Linked DNA regions of Homo sapiens: region 1 is linked to region 2. Evidence: fine-mapped expression QTL. A gene starts in region 2. The other region holds a variant in brackets. All regions are shown on one strand. Distances are between the middles of the regions. Region 1 holds the start of ZSCAN22 (zinc finger and SCAN domain containing 22). Region 2 holds the start of A1BG (alpha-1-B glycoprotein).

Region 1 (8,090 bases), 23 kb after region 2:
AGCTACTCAGGAGGCTGAGGCAGGAGAATGGCGTGAACCCGGGAGGCGGAGCTTGCAGTGAGCCGAGACTACGCCACTGCACTCCAGCCTGCGCAACAGAACAAGACTCTGTCTCAAAACAAAAACAAACAAACAAAAAACTTACAACAAACTCAGGAGGTGGGACTTTCTACCTATTTTATGGATGGAAAAACAGACACTCAGGAGGAAAATATTTGCCCAAAGTCCCTCAGCTAGTGAAGGGTTAACAGAGAGCTAAGCTACAAACCCACGCAAACCTACAGCCAGCCTGTTTAAGGCGTGCTCCTCCCCAACAGAGCCAAGTCTTTCTCCCTCTGTTCCCCAGGTAGCCACATGGTCATTCTCTCACTTTACTTGCTAATTATTTTGTAGTGTTTGAGATTGATACATAATTGACTTTCGCCTTTCCTCTTTTCTAATGCACATATTTAAGGCTATAAATTTCTCTCTAAACACAGCTTTAGCTATACATCACAAGTTTGATATGTTGTATCTTCATTATCATTTAGTTAAAAATATTTTCTAATTTCTGTTACAATTTCTACCTTACTCATTAATTATTTTTTAAAATTTATTTTATTTTTTTGAGACGGAGTCTCCCTCTGTCGCCCAGGCTGGAGGGCAGTGACGCTATCTCGGCTCACTGCAACTCCGCCTCCCGGGTTCAAGCAATCCTCCTGCCTCAGCCTCCCAAGTAGCTGGAACTACAGGTGTGCACCACCATGTGAGGCTAATTTTTGTATTTTTAGTGGAGACGGGGTTTTGCCATGTTGGCGGGGCTGGTCTCGAACTCCTGACCTCAAGCGATCTGCCTGCCTCGGCCCCACAGAGTGCTGGGATTACAAGCATGAGTCACCATGCCCAGTCCCATTGGTTATTTATTTAAAACTCTCCTGCTTCATTGCCAAACAACTGGGGGTTTTCTAGTTGTCTTTTTATTACTGATGTCTAGATTAAGTCTGTTGTGGTCAGAAAACATGCTACAATGGATTTCGATCATTTAAAATTTGCTGAAACTTGGTTTGTGACCCAGTGTATGGTTAATTTTGGTTAATGTTCCATGAATACTTGAAAATAATGCAAAGCTGTCTTAGCTATGACACCAAAAGCATAAGTAACAAAAGAAAAAATAAATAAACTGGACTTTATCAAAATTAAAAGCTTTTGTGATTTGAAGGACCACATCAAGAAAGTAAAAAAGCAGCCCACAGAGTGGGAGAAAATATTTGCAAATCATATATTTGATAAGGGACCTGTATCTAGAACAACTCCATAGTAAAAAGATGAATAATACAATTTTAAAATGAGCAAAGAATGTGACTAGACATTTCTCCAAGGAAGATACACAAATGGGCAATAAATACATGAAAAGATGCTTAACATCACTAGCTACCAGGGAACTGCAAATGAAAACCACAATGAGATAGCACTTCACACCTGCTGGGATGCCTATAATCAGATAACATGTGTAGGCAAGGATATGGAGAAACTGTAATCCTCATATGCTGCTGCTGGGAATGTAAGATGGGATAGCCACTGTGGGAAGTACAGTCTGGGAGTTCCTCAAAAGCTTAAACAGAGTTACCCCATGACCTAGCAATTCTACTCCTACGTATAGACCCAAGAGAAATGAGTATATGTCCTCACAAAACTTTATACATAAATGTGCATAACAGCATTACTCATAACAGCAAAAAAGGAGAAACAATCCAAATGTCCACCTGATGAATGGATAAAATGCTGTATATACCTATAATGGAACACTATTCACCATAAACAGAAATGAAGTACTGATTAATGCTACAACATGGATGAACCTTGAAAACATGATGCTAAGTAAAAGAAGAAAGACACGGCAGGGCACGGTGGCTCACACCTGTGATCCCAGCACTTTGGGAGGCCGAGGTGGGTAGATCACCTGAGGTCAGGAGTTCAAGACCAGCCTGGCCAACACAGTGAAACCCCGTCTCTACTAAAAAATACAAAAATTAGCTGGGTGTGGTGGCAGGCACCTGTAATCCCAACTACTCAGGAGGCTGAGGCAGGAGAATCTCTTGAACTTGGGAGGCAGAGGTTGCAGTGAGCCGAGAGTACACCACTGCACTACAGCCTTGGCGACAGAGGTAGACTCCATCTCAAAAAAAAAAAAAAAAAAAAAAAGCATATTAGTGTTTGTCAGAGGCTGAAGAGAGACAAAAATGAGAGTGGTTGCTAATAGGTTTGGGAATTTCTTTTGGGGATGATAAAAATGTTCTGGAGGCCAGGCGCGGTGGCTCACGCCTGTAATCCCAGCACTCTGGGAGACCGAGGCGAGTAGATCACGAGGTCAGGAGTTCAAGACCAGCCTGACCAATATGGAGAAACCCCATCTATACTAAAAATACAAAATCAGCCGGGCGTGGTGGTGCATGCCTGTAATCCCAGCTACTTGGGAGGCTGAGGCAGAAGAAACCCTTTAACCTGGAAGGTGGAGGCTGCAGTAAGCCGAGATTCTGCCATTGCACTCCAGCCTGGGCAACAAGAGTGAAACTCCATCTCAAAAAATAAAATAAAATAAAAATACAGCTTTTAAAAAAATAATGTTGGCCAGGCACGGTGGCTCATGCCTGTAATCCCAACACTTTGGGAGGCCAAGCTGGGCCGATCACAAGGTCAAGAGATCGAGACCATCCTGGCCAACATGATTAAACCCCGTCTCTATTAAAAATACAAAAAAATTAGCTGGGCGTGGTGGCGTGTGCCTGTAGTCCCAGCTACTTAGGAGGCTGAGGCAGGAGAATCTCTTGAACCCGGGAGGTGGAGATTGCAGTGAGCCGAGATCACGCCACTGCACTCCAGCCTGGCAACAGAGACTCCATCTCAAAATAATAATAATAATAATAATAATAATAATAATAATAATAATAATAACGTCAGCTGGACGCGGTGGCTCACACCTGTAATCCCAGCACTTTGGGAGGCTGAGGCAGGTGGATCACAAGGTCAGGAATTCAAGACCAGCCTGGCCAGCATGGCGAAACCCCATCTCTACTAAAAATATGAAAACTAGACAGGCGTGGCAGCGGGGGCCTGTAATCCCAGCTACTTGGGAGGCTGAGACAGGAGAATTGCTTGAACCCGGGAGGTGGAGGTTGCAGTGAGCAGAGATTGTGCCACTGCACTCCAGCCTGGCCGACAGAGTGAGATTCTGTCTCAAAAAAAAAAAAAAAAAAAGTGCATTTGATAATTGTTGGGTGTTCTCTCCCTTATTTAAGTCAGGCCTCTACACAAAAGACGCCTTATCAGTAAGTCTCTGTGCTTCTACACTGCTTTATTTGCTCTTTACCACCTGATGTGTGATACACGTATGTGGTTACTTGTTTATTATTTACTTGTCCCTGTTGGAGTATCAGCACATTAAGGGCAGGGGTTTTTGTTTAGGTCTTTGCTTTATCCCCAGTGTCTACAGCATTGCTGGGCACATACATCAATAATAATACTTTTGTTCAGCACAGCCCCATTAGGTGCCTACTCTGTGCCCAGCACTGTACTAGGAATGCAAATACGGGGAAGGCATGGGTGCTGGGCTCAATGGCCTCAACGGAAGGACAGCGACCAACACATGATAAGATAATTATGATGATGGATATGGGTATAGTGTGCAACAGGAATAAAAGAAAATGGGAACAGACAGTCAGTGGGAACCTACCGGCTACCAGGCCACACTAGCCTTTGGCATCTGTTATCCCATTCAAGCCTTAGCTCCACCCTGTGAGTCAGTATTACCACTCCCATTTTCCAAGTTGGGGAAAGTCAGCTGCTAGAGTCATCTGGTCAGTAGGAACAAAGCTAGTGTTTGAGCTCAGGCTATCTGCGATCTTTCCTCCACACTCAAAGCCTTTCCAAATTCTAGAACTGTGAGCACTGAATGCTGGTCAGGGACAGCAAAAAACTACTTTCATGTACTATTGGTGAGGGCAATCAATTAGAATATCTTTGGCAAACAATTTGGCAGTATGTTGTAAGAGCTTTAAAATGACTGTGCTCTCTGCCTCAATATTAATTCTACTTCTCAGAATCTAGCCCCATTTCTAGATGGGGGTGCTACCGACATTCAGAGGGAGATAATACTTTCTTTTTGAAAAAATTCTTTTTTTCTCCAGACGGAGTCTTGCTTTGTCGCCCAGGCTGGAGTGCAGTGGCGCAATCTTGGCTCACTGCAAGCTCTGCCTCCTGGGTTCACGCCATTCTCCTGCCTCAGCCTCCC[G/A]AGTAGCTGGGACTACAGGCACCCACCACCACACCCAGCTATTTTTTTTTGTACTTTTAGTAGAGACGGGGTTTCACCGTATTAGCCACGATGGTCTCGATCTCCTGACCTCATGTTCCGCCCACCTCAGCCTCCCAAATTGCTGGGATTACAGGCATGAGCCACTGCGCCTGGCCGCATGTAGGCAATGCTTAACTTTTTAAGAAACTGCCAGGCTGTTTTGCAAATTGGCTATACCATTTTGCATTCCCACCAGTTGTGGATGAGGGTTCCAATTTCTCTACATCCTTACCAAGGTATTTTATACTATGGTAGTTCCCCCTTATCTGCAGGGGATGTGTTCCAAGACCCTCCAGTGGATGCCTGAAACCATGGATATTACTGAACCTTATATATTCTATATTTTTTTCTTATTATATACCCTTGATAAAGTTCATAAGTTAGGCATAGTAAGAAATTAACAACAATGACTAATAAAATAGAACAATTATAACAATACACTGTAATAAAAGCTATATTAATGTGGTCTTTCTCTCTCTCTCAAAATATTTTATTGTACTATATTCACCAAAACTGAAGATGAGGGGTGACTACTGTATTACTTTTCTTGACATTCTCTACTTCCCACAGTGAATTTGTTTTCTCTTATAGTCAGGAAGAATACCCTAAATTAAGTGTAACCTCTCCTAGGAGACCTCGACACTTTGCTTTGGCCACATACTACTCCTTACTCAAAGACTTAGCCTCTCCCTCTCCCATCCACGACTCCCACAGTTTTAAGTATTTGGAGTTCTTTTTCCTTTCCTTCAATGTCAGCCAGGACGCTCAGTGTGCCTGGAGTCTCTGCTCAAGGAAGTCACCCTGGACAGAGATGCAGGAGGCCTGAGAAAGAGCAATGGCCTTGGGCACAGGAAGAAGAGAACGTTACTCTAAAACAAGACCCCAATCCTGAAACCTTTTGGTGACCGCTGGTGACCTCTGGTGGCCTCTGGCCAAGCTGCGTTTAAGCCCCTTCGCCGCACTGTAAAGTTCTCCTGGGTCTCTTGTGGCCTTTCTAAGCCCCTTGTCGCCCCTGCTGCTCTCGAGTTCTGAAATCCGTCTCTGACGGATTCCTCTGGGCTCTCTAGGCCTCATCTTAGCTGCCACTTTCCTCAGGTGTCATCCCAGATACCTGGTACTAGTCTAAGTCCTCTTCCCAGAGTGCCCTGGGTAACTCTTTGCTAGTTCTGTACTGTTTCCTCAGAGAGGCTGGGCTGTCCTGGAGCCACAGCACACAGGACTTGCCCTATAGCAGGTTCACAATAAGCAGGCATTAAGCAAATGGAATGACCAGTAAAGGCTGAGCATGGTTACCCAAGAATGTAGGGAATCATGAGGGGAAGGAGGAGCAAGGGTGGCAGGGATGACAATAGATGCTGCAACAGCTTCCAAGTTCTCTTTTGCACCCCTGGAACACCTGTTCTGGAGAAATCCCTCATGACGGTCTCTGAAATACATGTATGTGAAACTTCCTCAGCCTCCTCAGCCAACCTCAACTCCTATCAGGTTGAGGTTCCCCATCCACAGCTGCTTTACCAACCAAGGAGGGTGGTTCTTTTCATTTCTCACACATGGATTATACCAAGCCTGATAATGGTACCTACCTCAGAGGGTTGCTATGAGATTATGTGAGGTGATTTATTATAAGTGTCCAGCACAGGCCTGGTGCACAGTAAACATGCAGTAGATGTATGGATACCATAGCCCCCTGCTACACGTAAGCAAACACTGGGGGACATATCCATAAGCCCAGCTGAATGACCACTAGTCACTCAGTTTCAGCTGCAGACATGGCAAAGCACAAATCCTCTCTCATATGCTTGGTAAACTGTTTGTGGATCACCCAAGTTTTAGTCTCCCTGATAAAAATCTCAGTCAATCAGATATTAACACATATTATCTCAGGTACAGTCTGTCAGCCACAGCCTTCAAAATACCCAGACACAGGAAATATCTCAATGTCACCTATAATCAGTCAAATAAACACAGGCCTGGCCAGGCATGGTGGCTCATGCCTATAATCCCAGCACTTTGGGAGGCCTAGGCAGGTGGATCACCTGAGGTCAGGAGTTCCGGGCCAGCCTAACCAACATGGTGAAAGCCCGTCTCTACCAAAAATACAAAAATTAGCCAAGTGTGGTGGCCGGTGCCTGTAATCCCAGCTACTCGGGAGGCTGACGCAGGATAATCGCTTGAACCCGGGAGATGGAGGTTGCAGTGAGCCGAGATTGCGCCACTGCACTCCAGCCTGGGCAACAGAGCAAGACTCCGTCTCAAAAATAAACACAGGCCCTCGCAGCATTTCCATCACACAGTATTATTCTGATCACAGTCATTCATAATCTTAGTCACCATCTCAAGGACACACAAAGAAAATCAGTCACACTTGAAATCCCACCGTCACACGCTCACCCTCTCACAGTATCTCACAACCCACGTAGGAAGTCTCAAACGGCAACCATCTCTGTCAGTCACACACTCCATGGTTAGTGTTACACTCAACCTATCAGAATCACACACTCCAACCCGTCAGATACACACACCCAAGAGGTGTCAGACACAGAACCGCCTATCAGACACATAAACGGGTCCGCCCCACACCCTCCCAGGCCACTGGTCCTACATTTTATCTGTTATCTGTCCGCCCGCTCCACACTTCGTCCGCCCCACACCCGGTCAATCAGTCCATCCGACACACACTCCGTCAGTCCGACACATTCTCCGTCGGTCCGTCCGGCACTCAGTGTGTCATTCCGCACCACATTCGGTCCGTGAGTCTGTCCACACCGGGTCCGTCAGTCCGTGCACACACGGTCCGTCCACGCCTGGTCCGTCAGTCCGTCACATCCTCTGCGCGTGTGTCCGGCACTCGCAGTCCGTCTACTCACGTCCCCTAGTCAGCCTCTCACTCTCTACCCGCTGGGCGGTACCCCGCATCTCGCTCTGGCCGCCCCAGAGGTTCGCGGCTTCTGGACCTGCTGTGCCCCTCTCCAGCCTGGATCAGGACGGAGAACACCCCCGAAACCCACCTCACCAGCACAGCCGGCGGACCCTTCCGGAGGTGGCCGCAGAGACTAGCCAACTTGCGCGCCCGCCGACCCGGACCACAGCTCCCAGCACACCTCAAGGGCCCACGCCCGCCAGGACTACAATTCCCGGCGTCCTCCGGAAGCTCAAGTGTACCCAGGCGCGGTGCCTGCTGGGAATTGTAGTTGACGTTGGTCAGCACGGAGGCCACAGGATCCCAGCCCGGCCTTTGTGGGACTGAGGTGGCGCTGAGTGGGAGAGCAGCAGGCGATGCGCGAAAGGCGGGACTTGGAGGTGAGGGAAATGTGAAGGCTGAGGGTGAGAGTGCCTGTGTGAGGCTGAGGGTGCCTGTGTGAGGGTGAGGGTGAGGGCGGCTGTGTGAGGGCTGAGGGCTGAGGGTGCCTGTGTGAGAGCTGAGGGTGCCTGTGTGAGGCTGAGGGTGCCTGTGTGAGGCTGAGGGTGAGGGCGGCTGTGTGAGGGCTGAGGGTGCCTGTGTGAGAGCTGAGGGTGCCTGTGTGAGGCTGAGGGTGAGGGCGGCTGTGTGAGGCTGAGGGTGGCTTTGGGAGGGCTGAGGGTGTTTGTGTGAGGGGTGAGGGGTAAGGGTGAGGCAAGAAAATCGGGTCTGGAGGCAGGGAACCTAAGGACTTCCTAGAAGTAAATCAAATGGAAACTGCAGCTATGGTAGGAAATATCCTCTCCATTTATGCAGGGCGTACATGGAGTAAATCACTTTGTAACTTTACTTCGTCCTCTTCAT
Region 2 (8,763 bases):
AGCCGGGCTGCCGGTGCGGGGAGTGCGGCAAGGCGTTCAGCCAGGGCTCTTACTTGCTGCAGCATCGGCGCGTGCACACAGGCGAGAAGCCGTACACGTGCCCCGAGTGCGGCAAGGCCTTCGCCTGGAGCTCCAACCTCAGCCAGCACCAGCGCATCCACAGCGGCGAGAAGCCCTACGCTTGCAGGGAGTGCGGCAAGGCCTTCCGCGCGCACTCGCAGCTCATCCACCACCAGGAGACACACAGCGGCCTGAAGCCCTTCCGCTGCCCGGACTGCGGCAAGTCCTTCGGCCGAAGCACCACGCTGGTGCAGCACCGACGCACGCACACGGGCGAGAAGCCCTACGAGTGCCCGGAGTGCGGCAAGGCCTTCAGCTGGAACTCCAATTTCCTGGAGCACCGGCGCGTGCACACGGGCGCGCGGCCGCACGCCTGCCGGGACTGTGGCAAGGCCTTCAGCCAGAGCTCCAACCTGGCCGAGCACCTGAAGATCCACGCGGGCGCACGGCCACACGCCTGTCCCGACTGCGGCAAGGCCTTCGTGCGTGTGGCGGGGCTGCGGCAGCACCGGCGCACGCACAGCAGCGAGAAGCCCTTCCCCTGCGCCGAGTGCGGAAAGGCTTTCCGCGAGAGCTCGCAGCTCCTGCAGCACCAGCGCACGCACACTGGTGAGCGGCCCTTCGAGTGCGCCGAGTGCGGCCAGGCTTTCGTCATGGGCTCCTACCTGGCGGAGCACCGGCGCGTGCACACGGGCGAGAAGCCTCATGCGTGCGCCCAGTGCGGCAAGGCCTTCAGCCAGCGCTCCAACCTACTGAGCCACCGGCGCACGCACTCGGGCGCCAAGCCCTTCGCCTGCGCCGACTGCGGCAAGGCCTTCCGCGGCAGTTCCGGCCTGGCGCACCACCGGCTTTCGCACACGGGAGAGCGACCCTTCGCCTGCGCAGAATGCGGCAAGGCCTTCCGCGGCAGCTCCGAGCTGCGCCAGCACCAGCGCCTGCACTCTGGCGAGAGGCCGTTCGTCTGCGCCCACTGCAGCAAGGCCTTCGTGCGCAAGTCGGAGCTCTTAAGCCACCGGCGCACGCACACGGGCGAGAGGCCCTACGCTTGCGGCGAGTGCGGGAAGCCTTTCAGCCACCGTTGCAACCTCAACGAGCACCAGAAGCGGCACGGGGGCCGCGCTGCGCCCTGACCCGAGGACGCCCTGAGCGGGAGGTCGCGGACACACGGCATTGCGGGGTCTCGGGCGTGAGTGCGCTGTCTGCTGGCCCAGACTTTTTCGGGCCGCCGGTGCGGGCGCCCTCCTGCTGGGAGTGCAGGGGCGGCCTTGGGTGTGGAGAACCCTGGCTGCACAGTCCCTTTGACGATAGTCCACCGGCCACCCAGGCCTGTCTGGGGACATGTAGGATGGGCTCTTACCCCAGGGAGGGCGGCAGGCTCCACTTCGGCGAGAGGTTCGTCCATGCAGAGGTGGGCAAGAACTGGGGTCTCCGACAGGTGTGGCTATTTCTTTGAGTTCTCTGGCACTGTCAAAAGCAGCCAACCCACCCCCCAGTCCACATGGTCACCACTGCTGCTACCAGCTGCTCAGTGCAGTGGCCACTGTGTCTCCTAAGGTGCTCGCTTCAGTCAGCACTTCATCTCAGGCAACCACAGGTGACAGTTAAACATGATGAAACCGCATGCTATGGCTTTCTAGTGTCTCATATTCTGTTGGCAAGAAGCTCAGCACTGCATTCCTGACCGAGGTCAGAACCAGATCAATCTCAGAATCTCACCTGTGTAGGTCTGTTTCATGGGACTTTTCTTTTTTGGGGGAGGGGGCAGGGTTTCACTCTGTCACCCAGGCTGGAGTGCAGTGGTGCAATCACTGTTTATTGCAGCCGCGACTTCTTAGGCTCAGGTGATCCTCCCACCTCAGCCTCCCAAGCAGCTGGGATGACAGACTTGCGTCACTACACCTGGCTAATTTTAAAATTTTTTGTAAGGACAGTGTCTCACCATGTTGCCTAGGCGGGTCTCAAAACTCCTGGGCTCAAGTGATCCTCCTGCCTCAGCCTCCCAAAGCGTTGGGATTATAGGCGTGAGCCACCGCACCTGGCCAGGGAACCTTCTTTATACCAAGTACCACACCAGTCAGAGTCAAGTCAGGAAATAGAAACCACACTAGGTATTTCAAACAGAGGGGATATAAGTTAGGGACTGATTGTGCAGGTTTTGCAAGGCTCAGAGAGCAAAAGTGGATGTTGCAGAATCTCAGAGCTGGATACTTGCAGGAAGCTGCTACCACCCTTAGGGCTGGAGAACCCAGGGAAGCTAAGAGGAGGGTGCAACGAGGCTGGTGTTGGGACTGCCAAAGGAAACACAGAATGACAGCTCCATCTCTGCAGACCTCAGATTTGACCAGGCCTCTGGCTGCCTGGGCAGCCTCATTGCCAATGGGCTGAAAGGTTCTGTCACTGTTCAGTGGTCTGACTTCTGAGTTCTGTGCACACCCTGAGCTCTGCTCCTCTGGCCTGGCCACCAGTCCTTGTCTGAGTGCCCCAGGTCTGGTTATGACTTCAGGCCTCAGCACCTGGTTGTCTCTTCTGCAAAGAATGCATTCTCCCCCAGTCCACCCAGAACACACAGCCTCCATCCAGGTACTGGCTCTGAGCAGGACAGAGAGCATGCAGCAGGTGCTCAGCAATATGGAAATGGGACCAAACAGAGGGAGTCTCCACAGCTCCCCGTCCCTCACAGCAGAAGCCAGAGCCGCTGCAGTGCCCAGCTGGTCTTCATCACGTCTATGAGCTCTGCAATCGCTCTGCAGTCGCCTCAACTCCTGGTCTCCTCTGCTCCTTCTCACTGCACCCGCATCTCCCATGTTTGCACTGGCTGTTCCCTCTGCCTGGAATGCTCCTTGCCCAGTTATCCCACTGTCTTCTTTGCATCTGGCACACAGTAGATGCTCAATAAATGCCTGTGGAATGAATGAGTGGGGAGGATGCAGTGCAGGGGGCAGATGAGGGCTAGGCGGTTGCCCTGGGCCCTCACACTCGTAGCGGAGCTAGGCTGGGACACCCAGGGTGGGGACCAGACCTCCCCGGGTGGGAATGACAGGATGTCCATGGAGGCTGAGTGTGAAAGCACCACGGTCTCACCCCTGTCCTGTTCCATCCCAACAGGCTGTGGTGAGGAGAGGGGGAGGCAGGGGAAGCGGGAGGCCTGGCCTCCAGGCAGCAGGCTATAGCCACATGAGTGACCACCAGCAGCTCAGGTAACTGAGCACATGTCACGGGTAGGCCTGGGAAGCGCAGGTCTCAGCTGAATGACCTGGGTGGAAATCCGACTCCAGAGCCGTGGTGGGTCACACCATGCAGAATGAACCAGTGATGGAGAAGGAACCACAGTCCTCAGGAAGAGTGAGGGTGCACCTCCAGACAGCCCATGTGAGGGCAACCGCAGAAAGTCTGAAAAGAGGTGAACCCCACCTTTGGTGTCACATGTGCAGTGTGGTGTGACAGGGAGGGGCTCGCTGGGCTTCAGCCCCGGCACTCTCCACTTGACCTCAGCAGCTCCAGGTAGAGTGGGGAGAACTCAGCGTCTCCTTCTAGAACAGGTTCTAGGATCCATCACTGAAATGAGGATGAGGTGGTTTTAACATCATTTTATCACTCTTGATTTAGTTTATTAATCATACATGATTATTGATTATAATTGTTGCTGGGCATCCTGAGGCCTCAGAAGTTCACCCTTTGCCCTGACCCCATGGGGGCCCTGCCCCCGCCTTCCGGGAAGGACAAACACGGGAAGAGGTCAGTGCCCGAGCCACCCCACCGCCCTCCCTTGGGGCCTCATTGCTGCAGACGCTCACCCCAGACACTCACTGCACCGGAGTGAGCGCGACCATCATGTCCATGCTCGTGGTCTTTCTCTTGCTGTGGGGTGAGGCCTCCTGGGGTCTGGGTCCCTGGGGCGGGAGGGGGCGGGAACAGGAGCCTTACGGGGGCTGTCTCCGCAGGTGTCACCTGGGGCCCAGTGACAGAAGCAGCCATATGTGAGTGCAGGGGTGAGGTCTGGGAATGGTGGGCCCAGGCCGGGGGGGAGCCCTGTCTCTGTGGCACTGAGCTGATCCCAGCCACCCCTTGCAGTTTATGAGACGCAGCCCAGCCTGTGGGCAGAGTCCGAATCACTGCTGAAACCCTTGGCCAATGTGACGCTGACGTGCCAGGCCCACCTGGAGACTCCAGACTTCCAGCTGTTCAAGAATGGGGTGGCCCAGGAGCCTGTGCACCTTGACTCACCTGCCATCAAGCACCAGTTCCTGCTGACGGGTGACACCCAGGGCCGCTACCGCTGCCGCTCGGGCTTGTCCACAGGATGGACCCAGCTGAGCAAGCTCCTGGAGCTGACAGGGCCAAGTGAGCCGGGGCATGAATTGGGGGCCAGGAGGCAGTGGGTAGGTTGTTGACTGGGGGGTCTCCCTTCCTCCAAGTCACCCGATGTCTCTGAGCCCCAAGCCCCAATCTTCCCATCTGTCAAATGGGGATGATGTCTGTGTTGTAAGGAATACATGGTTGTGTCCCCAGCAGGCCCGGCATGCCGTACAGCTCCCACACACTCTTTTTCTCTTGCCGTATGCCTTGTTTCCACTGGTGCCTGCCTGCCTTTTCCCAGCAATGCCCTCCATCCCTGTCTCCTTCACAGTCTTATGAGTGTGGGGCCCAGGTTCTGCTGGGCTTCCCACGTCTCCTGTTATGCAGAAGCACTCTTCAACTCCACCCCACCCACAGAGTCCTTGCCTGCTCCCTGGCTCTCGATGGCGCCAGTGTCCTGGATCACCCCCGGCCTGAAAACAACAGCAGTGTGCCGAGGTGTGCTGCGGGGTGTGACTTTTCTGCTGAGGCGGGAGGGCGACCATGAGTTTCTGGAGGTGCCTGAGGCCCAGGAGGATGTGGAGGCCACCTTTCCAGTCCATCAGCCTGGCAACTACAGCTGCAGCTACCGGACCGATGGGGAAGGCGCCCTCTCTGAGCCCAGCGCTACTGTGACCATTGAGGAGCTCGGTGACTGTGGGAACCATCTCTGGGGGCTGCTGGGGGAGGAGGATACAGGGGGCATGACCACATTCATCCTGACCTCCATGCTGAATGTCCTTGCCCAGGACCAGGTCCAGGAAGCTGGCCACACGGTTGCCTGGGTCTGATGGTTGCAAAGGAGTTTGGGCAGAGGATGCCCAAAGAATGGAAGGGTGAGGCCGGGTGCGGTGGCTCACGCCTATAATCCCAGCACTTTGGGAGGCTGAGGCCAGCGGATCATGAGGTCAAGAGATCGAGACCAGTCTACCCAACATGACGAAACCCCGTCTCTACTAAAAATACAAAAATTAGCCAGGTGTGGTGGCAGGTGCCTGTAGTACCAGCTACTCAGGAGGCTGAGGCAGGAGAATCCCTTGAACCTGGGAGGCAGAGCTTGCAGTGAGCTGAGTGGCGCCACTGCACTCCAGCCTGGGCAACAAGAGCGAAACTCCGTTTCAAAAAAAAAAAAAAAAAAGAATGGAAGGGTGTTCCTGGGATTGCCACCCGGAGGGCAGAGGTCTGGGGACTGGGCAGAGGGCAGCTCCAGGGATGGGGCAGCCTAGTAATGCTGCCTGCATTGCAGCTGCACCACCACCGCCTGTGCTGATGCACCATGGAGAGTCCTCCCAGGTCCTGCACCCTGGCAACAAGGTGACCCTCACCTGCGTGGCTCCCCTGAGTGGAGTGGACTTCCAGCTACGGCGCGGGGAGAAAGAGCTGCTGGTACCCAGGAGCAGCACCAGCCCAGATCGCATCTTCTTTCACCTGAACGCGGTGGCCCTGGGGGATGGAGGTCACTACACCTGCCGCTACCGGCTGCATGACAACCAAAACGGCTGGTCCGGGGACAGCGCGCCGGTCGAGCTGATTCTGAGCGATGGTGAGCCGGGGCCAGCAGGGACAGGGACGCGGCTGGGTCCCTGGGGAGCAGGAGCAGTACCAGGTGTAGAGTCTGGGGAAGTGCAGTGCTCTGGGCCAGGGTCCAATACCAACTTTATCCGCCCACCCGCCGATTCAGGGTCCTAAACTGCAAATATGATGATGAGCGTGACAACCTTCAGGCCCCACAGGGAATAACTGGGTGAACAGGTCTGGCCCAGGCCACAGGGGGCACCACCTGGCAGGTCCCATCCCAGCTGCCAGGTCTAGGTGAGCACTGAGGGCCTCTGCTGAGGCAGCTCCTCCGCTCGCTTGCCTTGGACCTGATGGTATTTAGCAAACTCTGAGCACCGGACAGCGAACCCCATGCCCAGCGGACCACAGGGGCCCCTCCGTGGGGCGGGCATTGGGGCGGTGCTCAGAAGACGCTCGTGGAGCAAATCCACTACTGAGCGGCATCGTGCACCAGGCATCAAGCCATGCACAAAACATGTCCCCGTCCCCGCTTCCCGTCTGTGTCTGTAGACAAACAAATTACTAAGAAACAGTGAAAGGGTGCGTGTGAGATATCCAAGGACTGGGATGCAAAGGTGGGGCGGGCCCGGAGGAGGCGAGGGAGGAAGCTGGCCAGGTCATTGCGGGCAGAAGACTCAGCCAAGGCAAAGAGCGCGAGGCCAGACCACGCGTTAGGGCCGAGCCAGCCGCTGGGCGCCCGGGTCAGCCCGTGTGCTGCTCCGCAGAGACGCTGCCCGCGCCGGAGTTCTCCCCGGAGCCGGAGTCCGGCAGGGCCTTGCGGCTGCGGTGCCTGGCGCCCCTGGAGGGCGCGCGCTTCGCCCTGGTGCGCGAGGACAGGGGCGGGCGCCGCGTGCACCGTTTCCAGAGCCCCGCTGGGACCGAGGCGCTCTTCGAGCTGCACAACATTTCCGTGGCTGACTCCGCCAACTACAGCTGCGTCTACGTGGACCTGAAGCCGCCTTTCGGGGGCTCCGCGCCCAGCGAGCGCTTGGAGCTGCACGTGGACGGTGAGCTGGCGGGGCACCAGCGAGGGCGGGCGCGGGTTCAGTGCCCCTCGGGGCCTCCTGTCTTTCCCCTCTTTCCTTGGGCGTCCGACGGCGGCGCTCTGGGCCTTGGTTCAGCCCCCATCGCCTACCCCGGCGGGGAGCAGGCGATCGGTGGTCGAGGGTCTGGGGACGCCTGGAATTTCGGCTTATTTCCCACGGACGCAAGCCCGTAGGTCACGTGTAGCGTGGTGGTCGGCAGCAGGGAGGCTGGCCCCAGGTTTTCTTGTTCAGATCCCTGCAGCTCTGTGGCTGCCTTGTTTTATTACTGGCCATGTCAGTCGTCATACTGGACCCCCCGCCCCGGCCCCGGTCCCGCAGGCGCACGGCTGATGTGTCCTTCTCCCCATCCCCGCCGTCCCCAGCTCTGTTTGTCCCTCTGATTTCCTCATCGACGTCTCCAGGACTCAGAGCCCAGCAGAGCGTGAGGGCACAGGTCTGACCTCCAGATCTTGAGGTCGTACCCTTTGCTGGGAGCACCGTTTTCTCTTTTCTTTCACTTTCTTTCTTTTCTTTCCTGCCTTCCTTCCTCTTTCTTTCTTTCTCTTTCCTTCTTTCTTTCTTCCTTCCTTCTTTCTCTCTTTTCTTTCTTCTTTTTTCTTCTTTCTCTCTCTCTCATCTCTGCCCCCCAACCCCATCTCTCTCCTTCATTCCTCCCTTTTCTTCTCCTTTTTGTTTTTTTTTTGGATAACTTACTTTTATTCTTGCAGGCCGGAGTGCAGTGGTGCAGTCTCAGCTCACTGCAACTTTCGCCTTCTGGGTTCAGGCAGTTCTCCTGCCTCAGCCTCCTGAGTAGCTGGTATTAGAGGCGCATGCCACCATGCCCACCTAATTTTCGTATTTTTAGTAGAGACCGGGTTTTGCTATGTTGGCTGGGCTGGTCTTGACCTCCTGACCTTGTGATCTGCCCGCCTCTGCCTCCCAAAGTGCTGGGATTACACTTGTGAGTCACCATGCCCAGCCTATTCTTGCAGTGTTATAAGCCACCATCCACAATTGATGAAAAATGTTTAATCTTGGCCAGGCAAGGTGGCTCACGCCTGTAATCACAGCACTTTGGGAGGCCAAGGCGGGTGGATCACAAAATCAGGAGTTCAAGAGCAGCCTGGCCAACATGGAGAAACCCTGTCTCTACTAAAAATACAAAATTAGCCAGCTGTGGTGGCACATGCCTGTAATCCCAGCCACTTGGGAGGCTGAGGCAGGAGAATTGCTTTAACCCGGGAGGTGGAGTTTGCAGTGAGTCCAGGTCATGCCACTGCATTCCAGCCTGGGCAACAAGAGCAAAACTCCATCTCAAAAAAAAAAAAAATGTTTAATCTTTAAATTGTACATCTATATCCTATGACTCCAAATTTTATTTATCACTCTCCTTAAAGTCTGAAGAAAATGATTAATTTACTAAGCTCCAAAGACAACACAGTCCCACTGACATAACATTTAGTATGATGTCCTACTCTCCTGTTAGAATTAAGAACAGCCAGTATCAAACTGGCCTGAAATCTGATTGGGTTCCTGGGCTCAGAATAACTGTAGTAAATTTGTAAATCCACACTAAGACACAAAATTAAACTAGGATGTGTATATCTATCTTACAAGAAAACGTTTCACAGTAAAAATTAACATTATGATTTTACCAAATTTCAACATTATAGTTTGTTAATCCAATCAAGCTTTCAAAATTCCTGATTAGCTTACAATTAATTGCAAATAACTTCATGTAGTTTGGCTAGCATTTCAAAATGGATAGGGAATATAACTTTTAAAA

Evidence for each region. PIP is the estimated chance that this variant, and not a neighbour inherited with it, causes the effect.
Region 1: its variant is fine-mapped to the expression of A1BG in whole blood (TOPMed, PIP above 0.99). The same link has a PIP of 0.9 or more in blood mononuclear cells.

Annotation. Positions count from the first base shown.
Region 1 is chr19:58,326,360-58,334,449 of GRCh38, reverse strand. It overlaps ZSCAN22 (zinc finger and SCAN domain containing 22), which reads right to left and starts at 7,456. Exons shown (of 3, transcript NM_181846.3): 1 at 7,336-7,456. LOC105372480 (a long non-coding RNA gene) reads left to right here and starts at 7,202. Exons shown (of 3, transcript NR_144444.1): 1 at 7,202-7,627. RefSeq lists enhancers at 7,156-7,485, 6,829-7,571. The variant G/A (reference allele first, on the strand shown) is at 4,268.
Region 2 is chr19:58,348,566-58,357,328 of GRCh38, reverse strand. It overlaps A1BG (alpha-1-B glycoprotein), which reads left to right and starts at 3,837. Exons shown (of 8, transcript NM_130786.4): 1 at 3,837-3,925; 2 at 4,002-4,037; 3 at 4,132-4,401; 4 at 4,774-5,046; 5 at 5,642-5,938; 6 at 6,678-6,959. The coding sequence starts at 3,892. ZNF497 (zinc finger protein 497) reads left to right here. Exons shown (of 3, transcript NM_198458.3): 3 at 1-2,972. The coding sequence ends at 1,190. A1BG-AS1 (A1BG antisense RNA 1) reads right to left here and starts at 5,359. Exons shown (of 4, transcript NR_015380.2): 1 at 4,285-5,359; 2 at 3,855-3,950; 3 at 3,472-3,615; 4 at 2,146-2,960.